Regions from separate parts of the Homo sapiens genome. Here all the other regions are reported to be linked to region 1. The links are microRNA targets in miRTarBase. Many come from high-throughput screens and were not tested one by one. Region 1 holds a microRNA gene; each other region holds the end of a gene's coding sequence.

Evidence for each region. Region 1 holds the annotated microRNA hsa-miR-6081 (AGGAGCAGUGCCGGCCAAGGCGCC, at 2,134-2,157, shown strand). A microRNA usually pairs through its seed, bases 2 to 8, with sites in the 3' UTR of a target mRNA and lowers its output. Matches are read on the target gene's strand: a 7mer-m8 pairs with bases 2 to 8, a 7mer-A1 pairs with bases 2 to 7 and ends in A, and an 8mer does both.
Region 2: the mRNA of GID8 is a reported target of hsa-miR-6081. Seed matches in the 3' UTR shown: 7mer-m8 at 1,726-1,732.
Region 3: the mRNA of LRRC4B is a reported target of hsa-miR-6081. Seed matches in the 3' UTR shown: 7mer-m8 at 1,918-1,924.
Region 4: the mRNA of AREL1 is a reported target of hsa-miR-6081. Seed matches in the 3' UTR shown: 7mer-m8 at 2,601-2,607, 7mer-A1 at 2,409-2,415 and 7mer-A1 at 1,647-1,653.
Region 5: the mRNA of RPL37A is a reported target of hsa-miR-6081. Seed matches in the 3' UTR shown: 7mer-m8 at 2,402-2,408.

The regions. Positions count from the first base shown.
Region 1 is chr9:95,063,273-95,066,422 of GRCh38, forward strand. MIR6081 (microRNA 6081) reads left to right here and starts at 2,078; the gene lies at 2,078-2,174. The region is part of intron 14 of AOPEP (aminopeptidase O (putative)); the gene reads left to right. RefSeq lists an enhancer at 1-215.
Region 2 is chr20:62,944,700-62,947,699 of GRCh38, reverse strand. It overlaps GID8 (GID complex subunit 8 homolog), which reads right to left. Exons shown (of 5, transcript NM_017896.3): 5 at 1-2,961. The coding sequence ends at 2,788. Among named protein-coding and RNA genes, the nearest start is that of SLC17A9, 6.5 kb to the left of the region's middle.
Region 3 is chr19:50,515,150-50,518,149 of GRCh38, forward strand. LRRC4B (leucine rich repeat containing 4B) reads right to left here. Exons shown (of 3, transcript NM_001080457.2): 3 at 1,743-3,000. The coding sequence ends at 2,422. The region is part of intron 1 of LOC124904747 (a long non-coding RNA gene); the gene reads left to right. Among named protein-coding and RNA genes, the nearest start is that of ASPDH, 2.7 kb to the left of the region's middle.
Region 4 is chr14:74,660,945-74,663,944 of GRCh38, forward strand. AREL1 (apoptosis resistant E3 ubiquitin protein ligase 1) reads right to left here. Exons shown (of 20, transcript NM_001039479.2): 19 at 2,955-3,000; 20 at 312-2,878. The coding sequence ends at 2,776. Among named protein-coding and RNA genes, the nearest start is that of LTBP2, 50 kb to the left of the region's middle.
Region 5 is chr2:216,501,060-216,504,059 of GRCh38, reverse strand. It overlaps RPL37A (ribosomal protein L37a), which reads right to left. Exons shown (of 4, transcript NM_000998.5): 4 at 1-2,719. The coding sequence ends at 2,656. Among named protein-coding and RNA genes, the nearest start is that of RPL37A, 3.7 kb to the right of the region's middle.

The sequences.
Region 1 (3,150 bases):
CACATTTCCTGCCTGCCTTAGCAGGTCTCTTAAGCTGTAAAAATAGCTACCCATGGCAGTGAGATGAGGATCCCTGGACCTTGCCTTTCTGACCTCTTTCCCCCAGGAAGTCCATGACTGACCTTCAGGCAGCAGCATCTCTGCAGGCTCCACTGAGCGCTTTCAGATCTCCGCAGACTCCACTGAGCGCTTTTAGATCTCCGCAGACTCCACTGAGCGCTTTCAGATCTCTGCAGACTCCACTGAGCGCTTTCAGACTGGGGCCATGCCTCAGGGGATGGGCTCCCCCTGTGTTGTTTTGCTGGTGGCCACGAATCCGAAAGGCCCATGCTGCAGCGTGCCCTGCTTTGAGTTTGGTTGATATGCTTAATAAGAACATTAGTTTTCTGGGAGAATTTGGTAGCACCCGTTCTTCCCTTCACTGTGTGGGGGAAATAGTGTTGATTGAAAGGAAGAGGACTCCGAGATTGGATTGGAGCAAGAAAGTGTGGGTATCGTGTGTTGTGACTGTGTCTTCTCCGGGGTGCTGCTTCACTGGAGGTCTCCCTTCAGGGTCTGGCCCTCATGCCTGGCCCCAGGTGCTCGTGTGCACGTGAGCGGCTCTTCCTGCTGACTGACTACAGCTAATTGACAAAAGGCAGTTTCAAAAAAAAAAAAAATCTCAACTTAGTAAGGTGTCAGCACAGAGGGGAGTAGCTAGAAAAAGCTTGCTAACAACATTTAGAGGCCACCCTAAGACAGCTATACTCTCCCAAAGTGCCAAAGAATGTAACCTTGGGAGGCTCCACTCTTTCATGTAGAATTGCAAACTAAACTAGTAGGAGCAAGTGAATGTGAGGAAACAGATTGTAAGGGCATACCTGTTTCAGCACTCATCCGGCTGCCTTCCAGGATAGAAAGGAAACTCCAGGTTGATTGGAAATGGAAAAAACGACCAGCGTCACAGGCCTGTCCCGTAGCACGGGCAGTAGCTGAAGAGGCCCTGCAGACCCTGTGTAATGGGTCTAGGTCTCCTCTACCTCTTTTTTGTTTGTATGTTTGAGACGGAGTCTCGCTGTGTCTCCCAGGCTGGAGTGCAGTGGCACGATCTTGGCTCACTGCAACCTCCAACTCCCAGGTTCAAGCAGTTCTGCCTCAGCCTCCCGAGTAGCTGGATTACAGGTGCCCACCACCACGCCCAGCCAATTTTTTGTATTTTAATAGAGACGGGGTTTCACCATCTTGGCCAGGCTGTTCTCGAACTCCTGACCTCATGATCCACCTGCCTTGGCTTCCCAAAGTGCTGGGATTACAGGCGTGAGCCACCGCGCCTGGCCTCGTCTACCTCTTTTGATGCATCGTACACAAGCCATTGGTCAGGGGGCGGGTCCACAAGCTGGTATTTATCTTAATATGCTGTTACTAATACATTGTTTACTTGGGAAGAAAGCACCATAGCATTTATTTGCAGTCCAAAGGTGGAAGTTGTGAGTCCAGCAACACAATCATGTGACAGCTTTAATGCTCATTTATGAATTTCATTTGGGCCAAAAGCATAGTTCTGTGACTCAAGCACTTAATGATTAATAGAACTCTAGAGGAACTTACCAAAGGGGCAAAGAATGAAGGTTTGATGGTTGTTACATCTCCAGATTCTAAAATTGATCCATAGTTGTGGTTCTGTTCGTTCCTTTCAGTGCTAGAACTCTTTCCATTAGAGATGACTTTCGTCTTCTGCTTTGGAGGGCTTGGAGATGTGAAATGTTCAGGAGGGTCTTTTCCCTGCTGTTGGAGCTTCTTTTTCTTCCCTGGTTGCTTTTTCATAGTATTCTGGCTACAAATAAGTAAGACATTTCTATTTTGTTTTGTTACAGAGTGGCTTAGAGGAAAGGTTAGATATAATCTCTTTGGGCTCTGTTGCTGTTTCAGGATGCTCGATGCTTTAGATTTATTAATATGTAGTGTGCTGAACTTAGAAGTCCTTCCTCTTGTCTGCCTTGATCCAGAGTCTAAGCGTAATAAAGGCAGAAACTCTGGCTATGCTGACGTCAGGTCCTGTCATCGTGGTGTGTGAGGGCAGCACCCAGCTCTGCCTCTCCCACCACGGTGCTGGCACCAGGGCCTCTGCCCCGTAGGACACCGAGGCTTATGAATAGGAGCAGTGCCGGCCAAGGCGCCGGCACCATCTTGGTGATGTCCAGGGGGCCCACCCAGGCCCCCTTTTCCTCTCCTCCCCTTCTCCTGCTGGCTGCCCTTGGTGCAGGCGAATCCAGGGCCTCATTACTAAGCCAGCTGGCTCACCACGTCATCATCCAGCATTGTCAGGAGACACCATTGTGGAACAGAGCCCTACAAGGCAGGTTTTCAGATTGAACATGAAAAAGAACACCATTGTGGAGTGTCAGAGTAGTGTGTGCAATTAGTGAAATGCTTTTATAGGGTAAAATACAAGGAACCAGGTCCCCCCGGGATCCCAAAAGGGCAAGTTGACACTTGCCACCTCCACCTGGCAACCCACAGAAGCTCAGCATTAGGCCGTTTCTCACAGTATGATTGCAGGTACAGGGGTCTGGCTTACTGGCCCATTGATGCCATCAACCTTAGGTTACAGATCAAGAGGCCAGATACCGATGAGTCTGAACTTTAGAACATGGCCTGTGAATAGTGTGACTTCAGGTTTTTAGAAAGCTGAGACCATGCTTGTGAGGGTCATGGCTGTCCCTTTGACAGAGCATTATTCCTTTTCTAGAGTTTAAAAGGTGGGTATAGATTGAAAAAAGGGATTGGGGTAATTGTCTTTAGTTACTTTAGACATATCTTTTTACACCATCTGCTTTTTATGATAGGAGAAAGAATAGAGTTCTCTGGTTTTATTTGTGCATTTTTTCTTTGTCTTATTTGGTTTATGAAACATTTAATCGATGTTTCAGAACATTCTTTCAAAGTCAGGACGGTCTGTCTCTCAGTACATCCTTCTTAGGGTTTTCTTTCTGTTATTCAATTCAGTGCCTCTGGAACTTTCCTGTGGAAAGCCTGCAACAGCATCTCCCCTGTTATACTGTGATAAAGGGATTTTTTTTTTAAAAAGCTGATCTAAAATCACAAAGAACTTTCTTTTTTAGATAAATAATTTCCTGTGTTGTTCCTGAAGATTGTGTTTTGTTTACTGTG
Region 2 (3,000 bases), not on the chromosome of region 1:
GGTCCCAACCAGTGTCTGCCTTTTCTAGAAACTGGAGACCCTGATTCAAATGGCAAGATGTGTTAGTTCCCATTTGCCTTGCAATAACCCTATGCTTCACAAAGATTCCAGACTAGGGGTTATTCCTCACCCAATTTCATGCATCTGGAACACAGAGTACCAGAATACTCTCACATTTTATTTCAAGGCACTCTCCAGCAGAAAGTATAATAAGAATAAACTACTTTGTAAAATGTGCCATTTTTATAAAGACAACAGTGAGATCCAAAATGAGACAAAGTAGAATTATACTGAATGTTCATTATCCCAAAGTGGCTTAATTTCATTTGCTTGCTGCAAAGACAAAGACTGTAAAAAGGAGCAAAGAAAGTGTGCAAAGCACTTCCTTGGAAGACCTCGTCCACTAACAGATCACAAGAAAAGCAAGTGCAGCCCCTCACACGAAAGGAAGGCAGGCAGTAACATCGGAGACTTCCCAGTCTCCCCGACGTCTGCTCACGCTGGATGCTGGCACTGGCTTATCATGAAGGGAAGGAGAGCAGTAACGCTGGAGACTTCCCAGTCTCCCCGACATCTGCTCATGCTGGATGCTGGCACTGGCTTATCAGCTACCCACTGGCTGAAATGGAAATCAACACCAGCACTTCACGTGACAGCCACATAGTGACAGTCCAGGCACGTGAATGACCCCATTTGTGTTCCCCTAGTTTGTGGAGAGACTTCCTATTGCTGTGCTTCTCACACCCTCTAGTTTTAAGAATATGTCAAATTGATGATATATTATGCAAGTAAACGATCTTATATACACGAATAGTGAAAGGTAATTAGGAATATGCTGAATCACCTGGTGCTGTTGAAGAAAACGTGCAGATGCATCTCTCTCACCTCACCGCTTTCTTCTAGCTTCTGCTATATTTCATCCCCTATTAGTTACTCTCTTTCCCTCCAACTTATCTTCATCCTCAAACCTCAGAGGAAATAATCGCAAGGGTCACATCTGGGAGAGTGGTAGTTGGAAGGCAGCATTTCTAGGGGGTAGGGAAGCACCACCTCCCCAGCACCGCATCCTTACAAAATCTAAAGGGCAACCAATGGGTCAGTCTGGAGGCCGCCATGCTTCTGTAACAACCGCAGCAATTTTATCTTTGCATCTCTTACTGGATTATATAAGCCATCTAGGTAAAGTAAACACTGCCAAAAGCTCCTACCCACTGGAAAGAGAAGTAGAGGGCTTGAAAACACAACTTCGCCAGGCTCCAACACAGAAAGAAGCATCATTCAGAGGCGAGAACAATGCTGTGGACGCCTCCTGATCAACACTCAAGGGATGCAGGAGCTCGGTGAGGACGGTCCCTCAGAGGCAGATGACCCGACCGGCTCAGGTACTGGCAAGCTGGCCACCAGACCTAGACCATGCTTGTCGAGATGCCTTGCTACTTGAGAATAAGGCGAGATCCCAGATTCAAGTGCTAGCAGCATTCTGCCCCTCAGATGCGCCGGCAGGCTCCACTGGCTCCAAAGGACGCCCTTGGATGGGTCAGCAATTCCACGAACATCCACTAAACCAACACTTAGCACTGCTCAGTGGGGTCAACAGTGCCCGGTGGTCCGCTGCAATGAATCCAAACACATCTGTGCCCAGAGCTACAAGGCCATGTGCCCATCAACTGTCCCGACTCGCAGGCAATGCACGCAGCCCTGCACCACTTCCCTCCTGCCCACCACGGAGCAGGGGACAGTTCTGTGAGTGAACAGAAGCAGGACATCGGCAGAGCCAGCTGACGATGGAGGATGAGATGCTGCCGAGATGCTGGAGGGCAGATCACTGAGGATGAACACGCGTTCCTTCCGCCAACAGTCGTGCACCACCTGCTGGGGCTCTGCGTCCCCACCGGCCAAGGGCTGCCTCGCTCTAATGAAGGCCGCTCACTCAGCACAGGGCCAAGTGGCCTTTCCAGCTGCAGGTACCAGAAAAAGCCACTGCCGCTATCACAGGGGGAAGAACGCCCCAAAGACAAAAGGTCATTTGAGATGATTAACATCTTTTAGAGGCCATTTTGGTCATTCTTGAAATCAAAGAGAAACCTTTATTTTCAACAAAACTGCCCAGAAGAGATGGTTCATTGATCCACTAGGAACAAGTCTCTTACCACACACAGCACCAAAATATATATTTAAAAAATTAAAAAACACATAGCCCCCTCACACGCATCCCCCAAAAGCCACACAACCCAGACCAAAGGGAAAACAAATCAAACTCAATGCCCTCACACATGAGCCATCTTTGAATTAGGATTTACAAATTTATATATTCTTTCCTATGGAAAAAGAAAAAAAAAAAAACACAAAAACCACAGGGGTAAGGAAAAACTTGTAGGTGAAGGCCCAATGTCTGCCTAAGCTAACAGAAAGCAGAATCATGATTCGTGCTTTTCCTGTATTTTGAGTGGGATGCAGCCTAACAGCACAGCCCTCCGTGGTAGACCGAATCCTTCAGCAGCCAGAGGCCCCCGAACACTGGAAGAGCAAACCGCAACCTTCCAGATTCTTCAGCGAGTGCCAGAGTGCAGGCTCTGCATCAGACTGCCAAAGAGACGGCAGCTTTCCTTGCAAGTTTTCCACTGCCTACAAAGGCCATTTTTCCCTATAAAAAGATGCCAGGTCAAAAAAAAGTACAAGGGAGAAAAAGAGTTCTCTACTGCAGTAAGAATCTTGCAGTCGCAGGCTGATCTGAGGCAAGTCCCACGACGCAGGGCTGGTGTTGGATCCACCACGCAAGCGCAGGCGCTACTTGGGCTCCTCAATCACACCCTTGCTGAGGTCTGTCATTTTGGGATATTTTACTTTCTTCTGGTCCAGCTCGTTCTGAGCCCAAAGTAGTAGTTTCAGTAATTTTGCCAGTTTGGGTGTTGACTCGCGATTTTCATAATCTAGCACAGCTTGGTTAACTTCACTCCACACCTAGAATATAAATACATCTGATAAAAACCACCATACACG
Region 3 (3,000 bases), not on the chromosome of region 1:
GGCTGGGCGCAGGCCTGTGTGTCCTCAGGGCTGTGTCCCCGAAGCCACCTCAGCGTGGGAAAGCACTGGAAGGCCCTGCATGGCTCCGTCCCTCCCTCTGCCTCCCCCAGCAGCGTGAGATGGCAGCCCTGGCCAGCCCCAGCCCTCCAGGGCCTGCAACTCGGGCACCTTGACCCCCCAAGAGACATCACCACCCCCTCCCCCAACCCACCCAACAGCTGCCCACTGTGCCAGCAACCCCCCAGCCAGGCCCGCTCAGGGTTTGCTCCCTGCCCTCCCAGGGCTCTGCTCCTGCCCTTCTGAGTGGCACTGTGGTGCCCCTGCCGCCCCAGGCCCACCCGATCCGGCCCTCCAGCCTCCCACTGAACCGGCCAGAAATACAGCTGCTGTGCCCCAGAGGCCGCAGGCCCAGCCTCCCGCTTGGCCTCCCTCCCCTTCGGCACCCCGTCCTCTGGAGCAGCCTTGAGGGGGTCTGCAGTGGAGAGACACACTCTGGATTGGGCCCTGTTGTGGGTTGAATTGTCACCCAGAAAGGGAAGCGCAGAAGTCCTGACCTCCAGGGCCTCAGAATGGGACCTTATTTGGGAATTGGGTTTTTGCCAAGGATGGAGCTGAGGTTATACTGGAGGTGGAGGCTCCTGGTCCAGTCTGACCTCTGTCCTTGTAAGAGGGGAGGTTAGGCAGGCTGCAGTGGCCCACACCTATAGTCCCGACACTTTGGGAGGCTGAGGCAGGTGGATCACTTGAGGTCAGAAGTTCGAGACCAGCCTGGCCAACATGGTGAAACCCCGTCTCTACTAAAAATACAAAAATTAGCTGGGTGTGGTGGTAGTCGCGTGTAATCCTAGCTACTCAGGGGGCTGAGGGAGGAGATTCGCTTGAACCTGGGAGGCAGAGGCTTCAGTGAGCTGAAATTGTGCCACTGCACTCCAGCCTGGACAACAGAGCAAGACTCTGTCTCAAAAACAAAGAAACAAACAAAGAAAACGGTCAGGCGCGGTGGCTCATGCCTGTAATCCGAGCACTTTGAGAGGCTGAGGTGAGTGGATCACCTGAGGTTAGGAGTTCGAAACCAGCCTGGCCAATGTGGTGAAACCCCATCTCTACTAAAAATACAAAAATTAGCCAGGCCTGGTGGCGCATGCCTGTGATCCCAGTTACTTGGGAGGCTGAGGCAGGAGAATCACTTGAAGCTGGGAAGCAGAGGTTGCAGTGAGCTGAGATCACACCATTGCACTCCAGCCTGGGCGACAAGAATAAAACTCCATCTCAATTAAAAAATAAATAAATAAAAGAGGGGGAGTTGGACACAGACGGACGCACACAGAGGGAAGAGATGAGAGGCTACAGGGGCAGGCACTGGAAGACTGGGGTGATGTGATACAGCCACCAGCCAGGACAGCCTGGGGACACCAGAAGCTGGCGAGGCAGGAAGCTCCCCTGAGGTATCCCCAGGTTTCAGAGAGAGCGTGGCCCTCCCTCCAGCCTCCAGAACTGTGGGACGATAGATTTCCTTTGTTATAAGTCTCCACCTGGGTTTGGGTGTGGTGTGGCGGTGCTGGGGGAGGAGTTTAGGAAGAAAGGGAATCAGACCTTCTCTGGGGTCTCCAGGGTGAAGGCTGAGGGGCCTAAGACCACCCGGAGGTGCCCCGTGCCCACCCTCCCGACGGAGCTGCGAGGCTGGCTCTCCAGCCTCTCCTTCCGCCCCCACCCACATTCACTTTGTTTTCTCTCCTCCGTGCTTTCATGACCAAAAAAAATATTTTTTTACTTTTTCCATGTTTTTTTTTTAAAGTAATTACAGAGCAGGTAGTCGTTGACGCAAACCTCCCTTCAGTATCAAAAGTGTCTGTGGGGCAGGTGGGGCTGGGGCGGGTGGAGGCTCCCCCCCGCGCCGACGACAGGGACCGCCGGCCGGGAGCAGAGCCGGGCGCTGGGACGGGAGCTCTGGCGACGTGTCCATCTCTTCAGTTTTGAGGGCGGAGGAGTGGGAGGGAGGGACGGGCGTCAAACTGCAAAAACTGAACCGTAAAAGGAAGGTGTTTGGGGCCGAGGGGAAAGGACACCCCTGGAGAAAGCTCCTCTCTCCCCTGGAAGGCGGCGGGCCCGGAACGCTTGGTGGGAGAGCGAGGAGGAAACGCGGAGAACTCAGGCCACTTCTCCTGGGTCCCACGTCCCCTCCCGTCACCGGGGATTGGCGGGGGTGAGGCGAGGATCCCAGAGACTCCGCTCCTGGAGCCCCACCCTGTCCTTACTGGGGGTCCGAGCCCCAGATGGGGCTGGAAGCCACCTCTCCCCAATTCCCTGCGTGGTCCCAGAAGGTGGGCTGGGCTGTGGGAGGGAGGGGTCCCGGTCAGGCTGCGCCCGGGCTGGGACCTGGGTGGGGGGCTCCACGCCCCTCGCCCGCCCGGCCCCGCCGCCTCAGATCTGCGTCTCTTGCACGTTCTCCTTGGAGCCGCTCTTGAAGAGCAGAGGTTCGTGGATGGAGTTGAGGCCAGGCGGGCCTTTGCCCCCGCAGCCCCCGCCGCTGGGGTTGCTGCTGTAGTGCGCCTTGAAGGCGGCAGCCACGTAGTGGTGGTGGTTGAGGTGGTCTCGCTCCAGGGCGGGCAGGGCCAGGTGGCTGTCCCCGCCCACACCACCCCCACTGGCCACGGCGGCCGCGGCGGCCACGGACACGGCCGAGGCGGCGGGCAGCTCGTCCTCCACGTTGATGATCTCCACGGTGCGCGTGGGCCCGTGGTGCTTGTGGAGCTGGTGCTGCTTGCGCAGCTTGTAGAAGGCCACGAGCATCACCGCGGCCATGAACGTGATGGCCACGAAGCAGCCGATGATGATTTTGGTGGTCTTCATGACGTCGTCCAGGTCCTTGAGGGCGTTCTCCGTCACATCCGTGATGGGCACCGTGAACGCCTTCTCCGTGGGCCGCGAGGAGCGCGGGGCGGGTGCCGTGGTAGAAGACGAGGCAGGGCCGGCCGCGTCCCCAGGCCGGCCCCCACCCCA
Region 4 (3,000 bases), not on the chromosome of region 1:
GTAGTAAAACAACAATGAATTATTGTTTAAAGACTGATTAACCGGTTCCTTCTTCAGAAACTGAGCATAAACACTTGTCCTCGTCTCCCCATGGCTGAGACAGTGGCCCTGCCTGGCACCATGGACAGCAATCAGGGAAGGGTGAAAGGGCAAGAGTGGGACAGGCCAGGACTCCAGGTGTACACTCTACCCCGAGCCGACCACTTCAGGAGGAATTCCTGGGGAAATGCAAAATCATTTCCAAATCTTTTCCTTCCCCACCTTCCAGTCAAGCCATGAATCTCCATTTAAAGCAGCCACTCACTCCTTAGTTCTTTTAAACATTTATTTATCTACTGTACAAAATATTTACATCATCAGCTGCAACTGCCTGGCCCTTTCACCTGGCCTGACGAATCTGCAGCAGGGCTTGGTCTCTGCCAATTTTCCAGAAACATGCTGACACTCTCCTAGGTATTCACTCATGTCTGGTCTCCTTCAAAGACGCTAAAAGGCCAGAAGGGTAGCTGGCCCCCCAAGTACCTGGGTCACAAGGACATAAATAAAAGAACTGGCCAAAATAAGAAACACTAATAGAAAATTGCCCAAGAAATAACACTCTCTCATCTCTTTGACATATTGTACCTTTTCCCCACACTGGCTAGTATGAAAGCAGGATTAGAAAAAAAAAAAACAAAACAGTAAAAGAAAAGGCCCAAGAGAGCAAAGATACTTTTGAATAGAGTTCAGACAGAGAATAGAAAACCACAATAGTGCCAAAGGGTTTTGTTTAACAAAGACTGGTGCCTAAGGACCACCACAGGGATGCAGCTTCCCTGGTTGGGTTGCAATGGTGCCTAAGATGCTCTGAAAAAGTGCTATGACTAGAGCTTAAAATGACAGGTCTAGCCAAGACAATCAACTCAATCTCCAGGATCAGTCTCTGGAAGGCTGCCGGAGGGGAGAATTCAGAAAAGCGACTGCCAAAAACAGCAGAACCAGTCCACGTGCCCCCAGCTGGAAACCCCTTTCTGGGCCCAAGGGGCAGCATTATGTTTCCCAGGGTGGTGATAAACCTTCCGGTACATATCCCATGGGAAAACATTTGGGCAAGCAGCAGCACCTTGTCCTGGTCCCTGAGGAGAGCAGTGACCATGTGGCATGGAGGATCCTGGGGTATAGAGACCCTGATGCTGGATCCCGGACCCCAAGGATGAGTGAGGTCAGCACCCATGTGCCAAGAAAGGACAAATGATGACTGCGAAAGACTGAGGTCAGGCAGGAACTGTAGCAGCTCAGGAGGGCTTGTTCCTCATGATCCCTGCGAACAGGAGGGCTCAGACATGCTTCCAGGAGGCCAAGGCATTGCCAAAGTCCTGCCTTGTTTCAGGACTCTGTGTACTTGCTGGTTTTGGCAATAAAGATGGCTTGTAATATTCTCAGAGTTGACTGCCCCATTGGGAATGGTAGCTTGCAGCAAAGCCTTCTTAAAAACACAAATTTGGGAAGTCAATGAGATTTTGAATCTTGAAATTATTTTCAATCAAACAGTAATGAAAAAGGATGTTGTCATCTTCCAAGATACAGCAGCAGGTACTCTTCAATCATCATTCAACAGTGAACCTAATAAGCTTCCTCCCTCCTTAGTTCTCCTTCCTGATAACTGATGGAGCAAAGGGGAGTACAGGGGTTGGCAGGTGTTTACTGTGTAACATATCACCTCCATGTTCATCCCTAGTGTCCTGACGCCAAGGACCTGTGATAAGCACGTAAACTCCTAGTCCCTGTTCCTTTGTCTTAGTGCTGCCAGAGAACACCAAGCAGAGAGAGAATCAGGGATTGCTGGCATACTATTCTTACTGTTCTAATCTTTTGCTACAAAATTTTCTTCAGTAGAATGCTAAAGGATCCCCAGCTTTTAGCAGACTACATAATGGGGAAGTCAGTGGCCCAAGCCGGCCATACTTCAGTGCCAATAACAAACTCAGGGAAAAGCATCAGTAGTCTCCAAGCCAGCCATATGCCTAGGCATGCCCCACTCTGGAGGCTACAGCTCAGCTATCCTTCATATTCTTCAGTCTATCTGCTTTTCTCACTGGCTACAATTCAAGAAAAAGCTTACAGAGTTCTTCTTTGTGGATTAATAATCATTTCCAGAAATGCCCGAAGGGAAAGTGCTTTTTCCAGTTCTGACACCACAAAAAAATATTCTTTTTAGCAGTCCTTAGAGGCAGTCCAGTGCCATGGCCTATGCCTACCATTGTGCAGCGGGACTGCTCCTATGGGCCACCTCCTATCTGTCCCCCTCTCTCCTGGCTCCTGATGAGAAGAGGCAATCACCCCACCCATGAGAAGGACTCAAGTACCAGTCTGGTCAAGTAGTGAGGGCCAAAGAGGGTGTCTCCAAGGAGTATCAGCAGAGGGAGTTTTGGAGCACAGTGTGGATTTAAGGGTCTCCACACCAGTTTCCCAACAGGGCTGAGCCCCGTGTGCCATCTCCCTCAGCTACTGAGATCTTCAAAGGACCAAATAAATGATAGCAGCATGGTCCTCTTCTCATGACAGAATGAAGAGCTCAGCTTACATACCATGCCAAAGTGGCCTGTGGTAGATATGGGCAGGGAGCAGGTGAGGTAAAGACAAGGCTTGTAGGTGACAAAATCCTCCAGACACAGGGGAGCATGCGGCATCTTCTGGCTGATGGTTATGTGTGTTAGGATCAGTGGTTATGATGTCTGTAACTTGCGCCCAGAAGCTCCAGAGAGCATGGGAGCCAACTGGATGACAGGAGAGTGGTCAGAGCATGCCAAAGCCCTCGCAACCCTCGCTGATGGCCAGCTGCAGCATCCTGTGCACCTCTTCATAGGAGTCATATGTAGGGAGGCACAGCTGGTTAAAACTGGAAGGGCAAGGGAGAAGTGATTAACTCATACCACCAAAAACACTGGGCATGCATCAGGCGGGCAGATACCTACCATGTGTGTGCAGTAGGCAGCGTGCTATGGGTCGGAGCGGCAATAA
Region 5 (3,000 bases), not on the chromosome of region 1:
TATATCACAACACAATGTTCAATTAGATGACTTAGAGTCAAAGGCTCAGAAAACCACTGTGAAAACAAGCCAGGGGATGAAGTTGCTTAAATAACAAAACGAAGGTGGGCCATCTTTAGCATGGGAAGAGGCAGGTAAGGAATACTGAGCCCATAAAATAGAAGGCAGACTGGTACAGCAGAAAATCACAGATAGGAGCCAGAAATCTAATCTTCAGCCCTATCTACATCACCTGCCTCCCTATCATCTTGGGAAAATCACTATTTCCTTAGGTATAAAAATATTTATCTCAGCACTTTCACTGGTCTGTAAACTGTCCCCCGCCCTTTCCTCTTTTAACTGTCATAAAAAAGCAATACATGGCTGGGTGAGGTGGCTTACAGAATCCCAGCACTTTGGGAGGCCAAGGCAGACGTTATCAGTTGAGCCTGGGAGTTTGAGACCAGCCTGGTCAACATGGCGAAAGCCCATCTCTACTAAAAATAAAAAATACAAAAACTAGCTGAGCTTTGTGGCATAAGCCTGTAATCCCAGCTACTTCGGAGGCTGAGGCACGAGAACTGCTTGAACCCGGGAGGTAGAGGCTGCAGTGAACTGAGATCATGCCACTGCACTTCAGCCTGGGTGACAGACACTCTCTCAGAAAACAAACAAAAAGCAGTACTTCACTGATTATAAAAACCGAAGTTTTCCATGCCTAATCATGTAACATAGCAGCTTTGTAAGACTCCAAATTAATAATCCAAACACCCAGCATATACTCCATTCTACTACCAAGAATTATACAGGAAACTGAAGCAGAGAGGTTAAGTCACTTAACCCAAGTCACCCAACTATCTAGGCAGTTTGGCTAAGTTGGTGTTCTTAACCGCAGCATTAGACCATCTAATGCTCATTCAATTCCCTATGCTTACATGAAATCCTGGTCACTCACCTGGAGATCCTATGGAGAATTCTCCAGGAGATTCACCTGGAGAGCTGTGTCATTCCTATGAAGCCTGAAAATCCTGACTTGTCACTCCTGGTCCTACCCCTACTGACCCACAGTACTTGCTTCACATTACAAAATCAGTAGGAGTACCATTTTGTGACACAAATGAGATCCACAGATGAGTTACTGCTATGGATCTAGCAAATGCCTGACCCAGTGAAGTATTCTCCTGGGGTAGCGATGTTTCTGCCAGAGGCAATGCAGGAGGTACAGGTGAAGGGAGACATCCGTGCAAAGGCCAGTAATGAGCAAAAAAACAAGTTATAGAAGATAGGGGTCAGACCAAGTGAAATAAAGGTTTTTACTCTGTCCTAAAGATGAAGTAAATCCACATTCTTATCGAATTAAATTTGCATCCTTAAAGGACTACTGACTCTGGGATAGATAAAAGACATACCAATTAGGAGGACTGAGAAGTCCATACCACAGATGGTTGAGGAGTTAGACTAAATTGGCAGTGAATTAAGTGCATAAAAGTGTCAAAGGCAGGCCTAAAATAACTCGAATTCTCCAAGGCAATTCATTTTTTTGTTACTACAACCATCTGTCAATCTGAAATCAATCCTACGAATCCTTACGTGCAAACTAAAAACTGGAGAATTGCAGACGTTTGCAACATTTAATGTGAAATTAGTTTCATACTGTTTCCTGAAGATGCTGATGGTGTAGGTCAAATGAAACATCATAGAAGAGGCAGTATATGTATATCCTTTAGTATATCTTTTACCTTCAGAAACTTTTTTTTGGAGACAGAGTGTTGTCCTGGCTAAATAAAGTGCAGTGGCACGATCCTGGCCCACTGCAACCTCCGCCTCGTAGGTTCAAGTGATTCTTGTGCCTGAGCCTCCAAAGTAGCTGGGATTACAGGCATGTGCCACCATACCAAGCTATTTTTTGTATTTTTCGTCGAGACGGGTTTTTGCTATGTTGGCCACACTGGTCTCAATCTCCTGGCCTCAAGTAATCCACCTGCCTCAGCCACCCAAAGTGCTGGGATTTCAGGCGTGAGTCACCGCACCCAGCCTAGACACATTATAAAAATATTAAATGCAAGGCTGGGCGTGGTGGCTCACACCTGTAATCCCAGCACTCTGGAAGGCCAAGGCAGGTGGATCGCTTGAGGTCAGTTCAAGAACAGCCTGGCCAATGTGGTGAAAACTCCATCTCTACTCAAAATACAAAAATTAGCCAGGTATGGTGGTGCGTGCCTGTAATCCCAGCTACTCAGGAGGCTGAGGCAGGAGAATCGCTTGAACCTAAGAAGTGGAGGTTGAAGTGGGCCAAGACTGGTATACTGCACTCCAGCCTGGGTAACAGAGACTCCGCCTCAAAAACAAACAAAAAAACTAACTGTAATTTAAAAACTAAAGTTTACAGTTGGCTCCAATGTATCTCAAAGTCAAACTGGCAGGAGCAGACTTATAAAAAGCTAACACTCATATCTAACTTGGAAGACTTATATTCTTATGCTGCATTTTACCATTTGACTACTAAAAAAGACACTGAATTACAATAATCCATCTTGGCATGCTTTTCCAATACAACAGTATTTACACAATGCAAACATCAGAATGTCTAATAAAGTTAACAAGCCAAGGCAATTTTGTTACATAAATTAACCCATTTATTATAGGCCAGTGATGTCTCAAAGAGTAGAGGAGCGTCTACTGGTCTTTCAACTCCTTCAGTCTTCTGATGGCGGACTTTACCGTGACAGCGGAAGTGGTACTGGAAAGAAAGATTCAGTTTCCAACATAATTAAGCATGTTAACATAGAAAATGGCAAATAAGTAAATCTGCCTCGTTTTTGTGTTAAAGTCGCTTCCCAAATTTTCCTAGAAAGAATTATACTGAGATAGACTGCTCTACCAATACTTTGCTGCAGTCAATCCAAAGATCTAACCAACATTAGATTACTCCTCGGAAATTAGTGGCTTCTAAACTACATGATGGCATCCTTTAAGAGCCATGCCTTCAGGATCTTGCAGAATTAGACATACAATCTCATG